Regions from separate parts of the Homo sapiens genome. Here region 2 is linked to region 1. A link means that fine-mapping ties the variant in region 1 to the expression of a gene that starts in the linked region. Tissue or cell type: pancreas. Region 1 holds a variant in brackets; the other region holds the start of a gene. All regions are shown on one strand. Distances are between the middles of the regions.

Region 1 (5,380 bases):
GTCCAACAATGAATCAATCAAGAAAATGTGGTGTATATACACAATAGAATATTATTCAGACATAAAAAGTATAATATCCTGTCATTTGCAATAAAAAAAATTGCTGGTGAGAATCTGGAGAAAGGAGAACTCTCATTGCCTGATGGTAGGAATATAAATTAGCATACCATCATAAACAACGGTATGAAGTTCCTCAAAAAAATTAAAGAGAACAAAAGATCCATAAAAAGAATAATGTCCTGTCATTTGCAACAAAATGGATGAACTAGAGGACATTGTTAAGTGAAATAAGCCAAACACAGAAGGACAAACACTGCATGACCTCACTCTTCTGTGGAATCAAAAAGGTTGATCTTTTTTGTTGTTGTTGAGACAGAGTCTCACTCTGTCATCCAGGCTGGAGTGCAGTGGTGTGATCTTGGCTCACAACAGCCTTCGCCTCCTGGGTTCAAGTGATTCTCCTGCCTCAGCCTCCAGTGTAGCTGGAATTACAGGTGCACGCCACACCAGGCTTATTTTTGTATTTTTAGTAAATACGGGGTTTCACCATGTTGGTCGGGCTGGTCTCGAACTCCTGACCTCATGATCCACCCACCTCGGCCTCTCAAAGTGCTGGGATTGCAGGCATAAGCCACCACACCCAGCCAGGTTGATCTTATAGAAGTATGGAACAGTGGTTAGCAGAGGCTGGGGAGAGTAGGGGGGATGGTAAATAGGGAGAGGTTGGTCAACTGGCGCAGTTACAGTGAGACAGCAGAAATAAGTTCTGCTGCTCTACTGCACAGCACGGTAACCACAGTCAACAGTAATGTACTACATACTTCAAAACAGCCAAAAGATAGGATTTTGAATGTTCTCACCACAAAGAAATGACAAGTGTTTGAGGTGATTCATATGTGAGTTATACTGATTTGATCACTACACAATATATATATATGTATCAAAACATCACACTGTATCCCATAAATACATACAATTATTGTGTCAATTAAAAACAAAATACAATTTATGAAACACAACCACCACAATCAAGTTTCGATGAACTACTAGTATTGTAATTGACCAACTTATGGTTCTTTACGCTTTTTATAACATGTGCTTCTGAGTTACGTGTGACATACTGTCAGATATATATATATATAGTTGTACATATGCATGTATGTGTATATATTATCCCTAATGATTTTCGGAGCATTTTCGAGAAAATATCCTATAATATTTACTTCCCTGGGAGGCAGACACTGCACACATACGAAGTTATATTATACATTCTCTTACTAGCTTCCAAATTAGGCTCTTTTTTGGGAAGTCCTTGGAGATCGAGCAAAACTCCACAGACACTGTAGGAGCCGGTCTGTCTTTTCCTGGGGTGGCTCTGAGGTGACCTCTGCCATCCCTGTGTCAAGTCCCAGCCCTAAAACCACCCAGTCTGACTCACAAAAAGCACTTCATGCAGTGTCTTCAGTTGGAAAAAATGAGCTAACTGAGCACAGCTGAAAATAGGAATTGCCCTTTTTTAAAGACCACCTTCATTGCTGTCAATCAAATATACTGTCCTTCAAAATGCTGTGGGACAGGGACATCTACAAGTCATTTCCATGCTACCTTTGGAAGAGACGGTGAACAGGAGTTAGCTGCAAAAACATCCCTGCTGAGGCTCTGTCGCCAACGTGCGGACAGACAAGCTCCAGCACTTAGAGCCGTGTGCACCTTTGTCAGCTGTTCTCACAATTAAGAGACTCCTATTTCCTGACTACATTTCTTGCTTTGTTGTCGGTAAGAGAAGAATCATTACCCAAACGATCACTTTGGAGATCATGGTCTTTACTGTAATTATTTCCACTTACTCCACTGAGTTCCACGTTGGTCCCCACTTCCCGAAACGGAACTTTCCAGTAGAGTAAGTAGAAATAATTACAGCAAAGAAAAACATCCGCCTTTGTGTTTCCCCTGAGGTCATCACTCCTGTTTAAAGACAACCTTGAAGATAACTACGACTCCAAGCAGGAGAAGAGTCTTATTTTTCATTTCTCCATAATCTTAGAGAAGTATTTCAAATTATTTTTAGTTTTTATTTCAGAATGCAAGGCTTTAGACAATTCTGTTTCTTTCAATCAACATTTGATTTTAATACTTCTTTCTAAATACTAGGATGTTAAAAATAAGATCAATAACCAGAAAAAAATTTAGAATCAGCAAACATAAGGGATGGGGGTTTAATAGCATCATTGCACTTTTCTACAGTTTTTCCAGAACAAATGGTTCTTCCTAATTCTTCCACAGCCTAGCAGACAATGGTATCTCCACCACCAAATAGACAATTCATCTAAAAAAGGAGGCTTTCCAAATTCTTAAAAGAGGAACTTGGCTATGTATCCGTGAATGAGAATTACCATCAAACCTTTAATCCTTGGCAGTGAAAATGTACTCCCACTGATCACACGAAAGTCAGCAAGCCTTTGGGTTCCTACTTTGATAATCTTTGACTAAGGGTGATCTTGGGCATCAGTGAAACCCCACTTGTTTCCTCTTCTCCCCTCACTGGCTCACCGGCTGCCTCTGGGGGGGAGGGGGGCGGGGGAGGGAAAGGGGAGAGTGGGGTAGGGACACGGGAAGTTCTCTCATTCCATGCACAGCTTTACTATTTCACTGGGTATACTAAGTATAACAGCTATGGACATTTGACAGCTAAAAAAGGGAGGAATGCCCGCCCAGATCACCCAGGAAGAAGGCTTAGACATGAACCTGAGCTACTTACACAGGCTGCCAGTTGGCCCTCCACACCCCATGGCAGCTCATACAATTCCCCTTTAATTTCAACGCTTATTCAAAGCCCATTGCAATGTTTATGCATAAACCCATCTGTGTGGCTTCTTACCTAAGAGGTTTTTGAGGATATGCCCCTGAGTTTAGGAACTGAGGCTTGGGTGGAAGGGGAGGTCTTTCTGGTTTCTGCGGAACACGCAAGGGG[C/T]TTTGCAGCCTCTCACCGCCTCTTCCTTTCTGGGCCCCGAGGGATAACCTCTTGTAGTCTTCTCGTGCTTGTTTAGCCAAGGAGCGTCTCTTCTCATCAGCTGCTTTGGATTTTCGCACTGGAAAAACAACGGGGTCGGAGAAAACCCTCATCAGCCCACAGAGCAGGTGAGAAGGCTCAGCATTCATTGCACAACGGGCAGCAGCGCAGGTTCTCAGCAGTTTGTTGTCTGCTTATAATAAGGAACAATCATTATCAACACCTATGATCCAGGCCATTAGGGCTTGCCCAGCGTTCGCTGCAGGATTCCTCTCTTCATACAGGACTGGGGGTTTTCTGAGAGGGAGAGAAAAGGAAGAGGAGGAAGAAGGGATGAGAGAGAAGTAGAGAAAGTGTGCAAGAATTTCCTGCAGTTGGCAAGACCAAGTGAGGATCCCCCGCCTGAGCATGGGTTCAAGCTGGCAGGGGTGCTGAGTAATAAGAGGCAATTGTCACGCCCTGCATGACTTATGTTCAGATGCAGTGTGCTTGACTCACTAGCAGAGATCAGGACTACTCAGTGGCATGGGGCTGTGCATAGGGTGAAGGAGCAGAGAGCAGGACAGAATGAGAAGCAACCTGACAGACAAAAAATTAAAGGGATGCTTAACCACAGGTAATTGTAGGACACATTAGTACACAAAAAAGTACCCCAAGTCTGCCTTTTAATATTACAGTCACTAGTGACTTAATGAGAGAAATAAATCCTGAGAAATGCATCATAAGGCAACTGTAACACAAGAGTATTTGTGTGTCTAAATACCCCCAACATAAGGCCGGGCACAGTGGCTCATACCTGTAATACCTGCACTTTGAGAGGCCAAGGTCGGTGGGTCACCTGAGGTCAGGAGCTTGAGACTAGCCTGGCCAACATGGTGAAACCCCAACTCTACTACAAATACAAAAAATTAGCTGAGCATGGTGGCAGGCGCCTGTAATCCTAGCTACTGGGGAGGCTGAGGCGGGAGAATCCCTTGAAACCAGGAGGCGGAGGTTGCAGTGAACTGAGATCACACCATCGCACTCCAGCCTGGGTGACAAGAGCGAAACTCCATCTCAAAAAAATAAAAATAATCAATACCCCCAACATAGCAAAGGTATAGTAAAAATATGGTATAGAGGACAAAAAAAAATGGTGCCTCTACATAAGGCACTTACCATGAATGGAGCTTGCAGGACTGGAAGTTGCTCTGGGATGAGTCAGTGAGTGAGTGCTCAGTGAATGTTAAGACCTAGGACATTACTACACACTGATGTTGACTTTGTAAACACTTTACACTTAGGCTACACTACATTTATAAAATTTATTTTAAAAATGTATGCAACCCATTATTTTGGGGTTTTATTATTATTTTTTGGTTTTCTGTATGTGTGTGTCTGTGTTTTTTTTGTTTTGTTTTGTTTTGTTTTTGAGACTCAGTCTTGCTACATTGCCCAGGCTGAAGTGCAGTGGTACGATCTCGGCTCACTGCAACCTCCGCCTCCCTGGTTCAAGCAATTCTCCTGCCTCAGCCTCCTGAGTAGCTGGGACTACAGGTGTACGCCACCACAACCAGCTAATTTTTGTATTTTTAGTAGAGATGGAGTTTCACCATGTTGGCCAGGCTGGTCTTGAACTCATGACCTGAAGTGATCCACCCACCTTGGCCTCCCAAAAGGCTGGGATTACAGGAGTGAGACACAGTGCCTGGCCTAAAAACTATATGCGACCCATCGTTGACCAAAACATCATACAGCGCATGACTACTTTGTAAAACAGAATTTTTTGTTATAGCAATGAGACTCAAATGCAGAATGTAAAAATGATTTTTATTGACTATATTTACACTTCAGGCAGTATTGGTCAAATCCTGTTATACTTGACTTCAAAGAGACACCCAAAATATTCCCTTATGCTAGGATTTCAGTGCATAGTACAAAGAGCCTACTGGATCTTGCAAATATTTTCATTTCACAGTAGTTGTCATTTAAATGGCATTGGTTGTAATGGGACTGCAGATCAATGTAGGATCTCAACATCCTGCAAATATAGCCATACCTGCTGTCTTCCTCAAGCCACCTCAGGTTGATCTAGCAGTTCAGATTTCTCTGAGTCAGATGGAAACACTAATTCTTTCACAAACCTAATTCTTCTAGCATTCTGGAGCATCCTCTCCTCTGCCTTCAGTTGCATGGGCTTATTCTTCTCCTATGAGTTTTCTCACCCATTCTGCTCACTCAAATAGGAGTCAAGGCTGGGTCACAGGCAGGAGCGGGATGCTAACACATCCAGCCTGGTATTCCTGTGTGCTTCTGATTACAAAGTTAAAATGTATTCACTATCAAAAATTTAGGGGAAAAAAAATCCAAAACACAATATTAAATTACAAG
Region 2 (5,380 bases), 51 kb after region 1:
ATTCTGCCACTGCTGAATGGTACTGGTGTAAATCACCTGTCCCCCTCACCCTCTAATTCCCAACCCCTAACCCCCGCTCCAAGGCTTTCTCAGACCCCAACTCAAGCTCAGCACAGTACACCCAAGACACCCAGAGGCACTCCAGCCTCAACTCCCAGCTCCGCCTCTAGTGAGCGGTGTGACTCTGTGCTGTCACCTCACCTCCTTGGGACTCAGTTTCCTCATCTGTGAAACGAGGACTGGTTCAGTCTGTGACTTCTAATGTGTGGGTATCTGACATAATCTACTGTGAAGCGAAGGAGCCTGGTGGAGCCAGGGTAGAAGAAATAGAAATCAGGAAATTAACTAACTAGGGCTTTCCTACTTTCACTCCCTGACAAGGAAGTAATCATTGCTGATACTGATTCAAACTCAGAGGACTTTCCCATACTATATCAAGGGCAGCAAATCTCCGGTTATTCAAGATCCAACAAAGGAATAGCTCAGCTAACACAGCCCCTTTCTTAAAAGAGAGAAATGATAAGCAACAAGCCCACACCTGCTATTTATTCTGAACACCAATTGCTAAAAGGTCAGAGAATCCGTTGTTTTCCATGATACCATAGATTTGGCCTGATTCTCACACCTTCACACTGTTCTACAATACAACTGTCTTTTGAATAACTCTGAGACCTAAACAAAATACAATTTTAAAAGGCCTTAGATACAGGCTAAATCATAAAAATAGTAGGCGGGCACAGTGGTTCTACATGTAATCCCAACACTTTGGGAGGTGGACATGGGTGGATTGCTGGAGCTCAGGAGTTCAAGACCTGCTTGGGCAACATGGCAAAACTCCGTCTCTACATAAAGTATAAAAATTAGCCAGGCGTGGTGGCCCGCACCTATAGTCCCACCTACTTGGGAGGTTGAGGTGGGGGGATCTCTTGAGTTGGAGAGTTTGAGGCTACAGTGAGCCGAGATCGCACCACTGCACCACAGCCTGGGTGACAGAAGGAGACCCTGTCTCAAAAATTAAAAACATTAGGTCGGTGCAAAAGTTATTGTGTTTTACATGGCCAAAAAAAAAGTAACTGCGGTTTTTTTTACGTAAAAACCGCAATTACTTTTGCACCGACCTAATAAAATAAAAAATAAATAAAAGTATTGTGGTATGGACAGTGTAACTATAACATTAACAATACAGTTTGAATTCTAATTCTTTTAAAACAGCCAGCTCTGTGGTCCAACTTTGTTTTCTTATTGAAACTTTATCTTATTCATCTACCAGCAAAAGGGCTGTTTTTGAGGATGAAACAAATTACCAGAGATGACAGCAGTTTGTAAATATATACTATTCTTCAGAAATTTGAGATTACTGTACACACAGATTTAGTATACATAGAGAATTCCACTCATATGCCAAATCTATGCCCCTGTATGCTTTCCACTTATTTATTCACTATTTTAAAATAATCGTACCCAAGTCGTTGTTTCTATTAAACCAGCAATCAAACGAAAGCCTTTGGAGCGATGAGGAGCATCTGTTTGAAAGGGGGAGGTGCCACGCTTGCTGCTTCTCTAAGCTCCCTGGGAAGGGAGAGACAACTCAGAAAACCTACAAACTGTAGCTCCTTCCGGTGCCCGCGTGACCCCCGAGTCCAGGAGCGGGCAGGGGCGCCGCTTGGCTGAGCGCACTGGGCACCCGGTCTGGGTCTGGGCCAGCCCCGCCGCTGCAGCCCGAGGGAGGCGGCGCTGCACTGGCCTCCGCGCGCTCCCAGACCCCACGTGGGGGCGCCCCTGGGTGCCGGTGCGCGGGGAACGTGCTGCGGGGGTGCTGCGCCAGCTGCCACCGTTTCCCGGGACTTCCCTCCTGGAAGATTTCCATGCGCAAGTCGAGGACGTGCTCCTGCTAGGAGTCTAGAAACTCTAGGCCAGCCCGGACCCTCCCGGGGCCTGCACTCCCCGCGGGTGGAAGCACGCGCCGCGTGTCCCTGCCGGATTCCAGAACTTCCCCGAAGGTCCTCAGCCCCGGCAGACCCTCTCCCTCGAAGTTCCCCCGCCACCCCCTGCAAGCCCCCAGGCCCCGGGGACCGCCGCTCACCTAGCCAGCGGCTCCAGACACCGGACACCGGACACCGGACACCGGACACCCGCCGCGGCCGCTCTCGCCGCCCAACCCCGCACCTGAGCCCGCCCCGGGCGCCGCGAAGGGGTGGAGGCGGGGGTGAGGCTTCCGCCCGCCCGCTCTGGCCCCTGCGCCTCCCATGCACCCATGCAACCTCCGAGGAAATTCCCTTCCCCCTACTCCCACCCCACGCACACTCTCCCCAAAGCCTCGCCCCACCCCCAGCACCTACCAGTGCTGGGCGCCCCTGGGCAGGGTGGCTCGATCACCCGCCACATCCACTTGGCCGCCAGAAGCCGTCGGGGAAGGGAGGGAGGGAAAGGCAGAGGCGTCCCAAGCGGCGCAGGCGGGCTGAGCAAATACTCCGGCCCGGACGCAAAACAGCTCTTGTAGCCGTCCCGCCCGCGCCGCCCCGCCGCGCCCACATGCCGGGGTGACTGGCGGGGCGCAATCGCGGCCCCACCCGGGCGCCTGGAGGCTCTCCAGGGCCACTCGTCGGCGAGGCTGCGTGGCCTGCGCATCTCGGGCCGCCTGGCCCGCGCGCTGTCCCCGAGCTGCGGTAGTCCGGGGTAGGCTTGTCCTCTCCTCTCTTAGTTCATGAGACAGGGATCTGCAGTCTGTGATCTCTTGGGGACTGCAGGACTTAGATTAAATCTGCAGATCTGGGCCTTTCCACGTTTCAGAGCTCGGGGTTCCTTGCTAGGTGTAGGGTAGGAGGGTGCGCAGGCCCCACTTGTTCACTCTGCTTGGGTGCTGCAGGCCAAGGCGACTCTGGAGCTTTTTTTTTTTTTCTTTTGTTGACATTAAGTAAATGATCAAACTCTTTGGCACTTGTCGGTACACGTGTGGCTTTGTAGGACAAGATGAAGGAAGGAAAAGGCTGGAAGGAAGGAGACCGCAGTCAACACAGACAGGTGGAGAAAATGAAAGAAAACTGGGGGAAAAGTTAAGATGCTGAAAGGAGTCTTGAGGATTGCAACAAGAACAGGTTGGCTTGGTGCCTGAAGACGTCAGGGAGGAGCTGGCAGTCCACAGTTAGAGGAAATCTTGGAGGAAAATTGAGCAGAAGCACAGTGGAAAGGCATTTCCACTGGAGGGCATTTTCCATCCTAGAGGAGCATGTGGAAGAAAACCGCCTGCTTTGGTGAACCCCAGATTTTGTGTATTGGGAGAGATGTAATAAACAGTAAACACCAGTAGTCCTCTCCACGGACTACCTGACCTCTTTAGGAGCCTGACCTGCTGGATTCAAACACAAAATGGCATTTCCCTGCCTCTCCAAACTGCAGAAGCTGTGCAGAGTTACATCAAGCCTCGGGGCAGGCGGCATTGTCAGGAAATAAGACCCAGCTATTTAGGAACAATTCCAGGAATCCCATCAGGGAGGAATTTCTGGTGTAAGGCTTAGTTCCTACTGCAGTTTAAATGATAGCATATGGGGTGCTTTAGGCTGGAGTGGGATTGGCCCCTGGAAAGCTGCTATGACGAGGTCAGAATGAATCCTAGCCCTGCATGGATGCATCAGTTGAACCATACAGGGTGGTTTATCAGTTAGGAAAAATCCCACAGGACACTGTGACAGCCTACCTTCCTCACACCCAGTCTCTCTCCAGGTCCTGGCAAGTCCTTCCTTATAACAGCTTTATCACTGTGCTACTAACCTCTGTACCTCACTTTCCTCCTCTAGATAAAGAGTGTCTGCCTCGGTAAGTTGTCAAGAGGGTTAAATGAGATGCTACATGCAAAGAGATTAGAAGAGCTCTTGGCATGTGGTGAGTGTTCAAACACATTCACTCAGATCAGTTCATATCACATTAAGGTACTGGAATTCCACATTCCTGCCATCTCACCCTAGGCTGTGGGTTCTGCCCACCATGCCACCTACCTTCCAAGTCATTCCCAGGGATCCTATCCTCCTGGTATTCACATCCTTGCATAGCTCCCTGCCACTTTGTAAAGGTTGGTATGCTTGACCAATAGAACCCGGCAGAAGTGATGATGGTCTGCCACTTCAGAGATTAGGTAAGGAAACACCTTGGTGCTTCTATCTTGAAATAATATTGACAGCCCAAAGGAACGCACGCTGTACACAAATAATGCAAACAACTCAGAACCCAGACTCTCTTCCCTTTTCTCTCATCTGCCCATTTCCATCCTTCTTGTCTCGTGGCTCTTTCCTATATTTGCCATGAACTCTTCTTCTTCTCTTATTTTTATAGTTTCTTCTCCATCCTCTTCACTTGGTCTCCCCTCTCCTCTATCACCTTCTCTTTTTGTTTCCTTTCTGCTGACTCCTGGAATTTCCTCTTTTAATTGGCATGGTCTGGAAGAGAAAAGGTAGATGTTTTTCCCTTAATTTCAAAAGTAGACAATTCGAATTTTTTTTTTTTTTTTTTTTTTTGAGATGGAGTTTCACTCTTTTTGCCCAGGCTTGGAGTGCAGTGATGCAATCTTGGTTCACTGCAACCTCGGCCTCCTGAGTTCAAGTGATTCTCCTGCCTCAGCCTCCCAAGTAGCTAGGATTATAGGCACCTGTCACCACAACTGGCTAACTTTGTATTTTGTTTTTGTTTTTTTTTTTTGTTTGTTTGTTTTTTAGTAGAGACTAAGTTTGACCATGTTGGCCAGGCTGGTCTCAAACTCCTTACCTCAGGTGATCTGCCTACCTTGGCCCCCCAAAGTGCTGGGTTACATGCGTGAGCCACTGCGCCTGGCCAAGAATGTTTTATAATGCTCTAAAAAAAAATCAGGTGGCCTATTACTTGTGGGGCCTTCAGTTACTTTTTCCCTCCCTTTGGGCCAGTACTCTCAGAGGAAAACATTTCCCCCCTCCATGATCTAGGATGTGTTATAGGGACGAATGTGGGGAAGACTGCTGACAGGGGCTGGCCACTGACGAGTCACAGACATGGAACATGGTAGCACCAACATGTGTTCAGGAATGCTCTGCTGCAGCGTTCACTGCCAGAACTTAAAGAGAAAGCTAAACATCTATTTATTGGTTACTAATATTTTTAATTTGTCATTTATTCGTGGTAATGAATACCATGAAACAAATAGCCTACATTTTAATGGATGTGTTCCTTGGCCTTCCTTTTGGACTGTTGCTTAGGAGCCCTGCTGCCCAGGGCTGTCAAGTAAAATGGCATAGCATGGCCCTTGTACAACTGTGGGTGGGCAGGGGACAAGCACAGAGATCACTATGTGTAAGGCGCCCCCTGGAGTTGTGCAACACTGCCAGCCCTATTGTTGCCAGAAAGACAGGATAAGCCA

Alleles and levels. Alleles are on the strand shown, and positions count from the first base shown. SD is a standard deviation of normalised expression in the study named.
For the expression in pancreas of the gene that starts at base 2,470 in region 2, T is the low allele of the variant in region 1 and C is the other (small effect, 0.23 SD a copy in GTEx).

What was found. PIP is the estimated chance that this variant, and not a neighbour inherited with it, causes the effect.
Region 2: it holds the start of SH2D4A, and the variant in region 1 is fine-mapped to the expression of SH2D4A in pancreas (GTEx, PIP above 0.99).

Annotation. Positions count from the first base shown.
Region 1 is chr8:19,361,781-19,367,160 of GRCh38, reverse strand. SH2D4A (SH2 domain containing 4A) reads right to left here. Exons shown (of 10, transcript NM_022071.4): 7 at 2,879-3,089. Among named protein-coding and RNA genes, the nearest start is that of SH2D4A, 51 kb to the right of the region's middle. The variant C/T (reference allele first, on the strand shown) is at 2,972.
Region 2 is chr8:19,310,783-19,316,162 of GRCh38, reverse strand. It overlaps SH2D4A (SH2 domain containing 4A), which reads right to left and starts at 2,470. Exons shown (of 10, transcript NM_022071.4): 1 at 2,340-2,470. LOC105379306 (a long non-coding RNA gene) reads right to left here. Exons shown (of 4, transcript XR_949550.3): 4 at 4,339-4,430.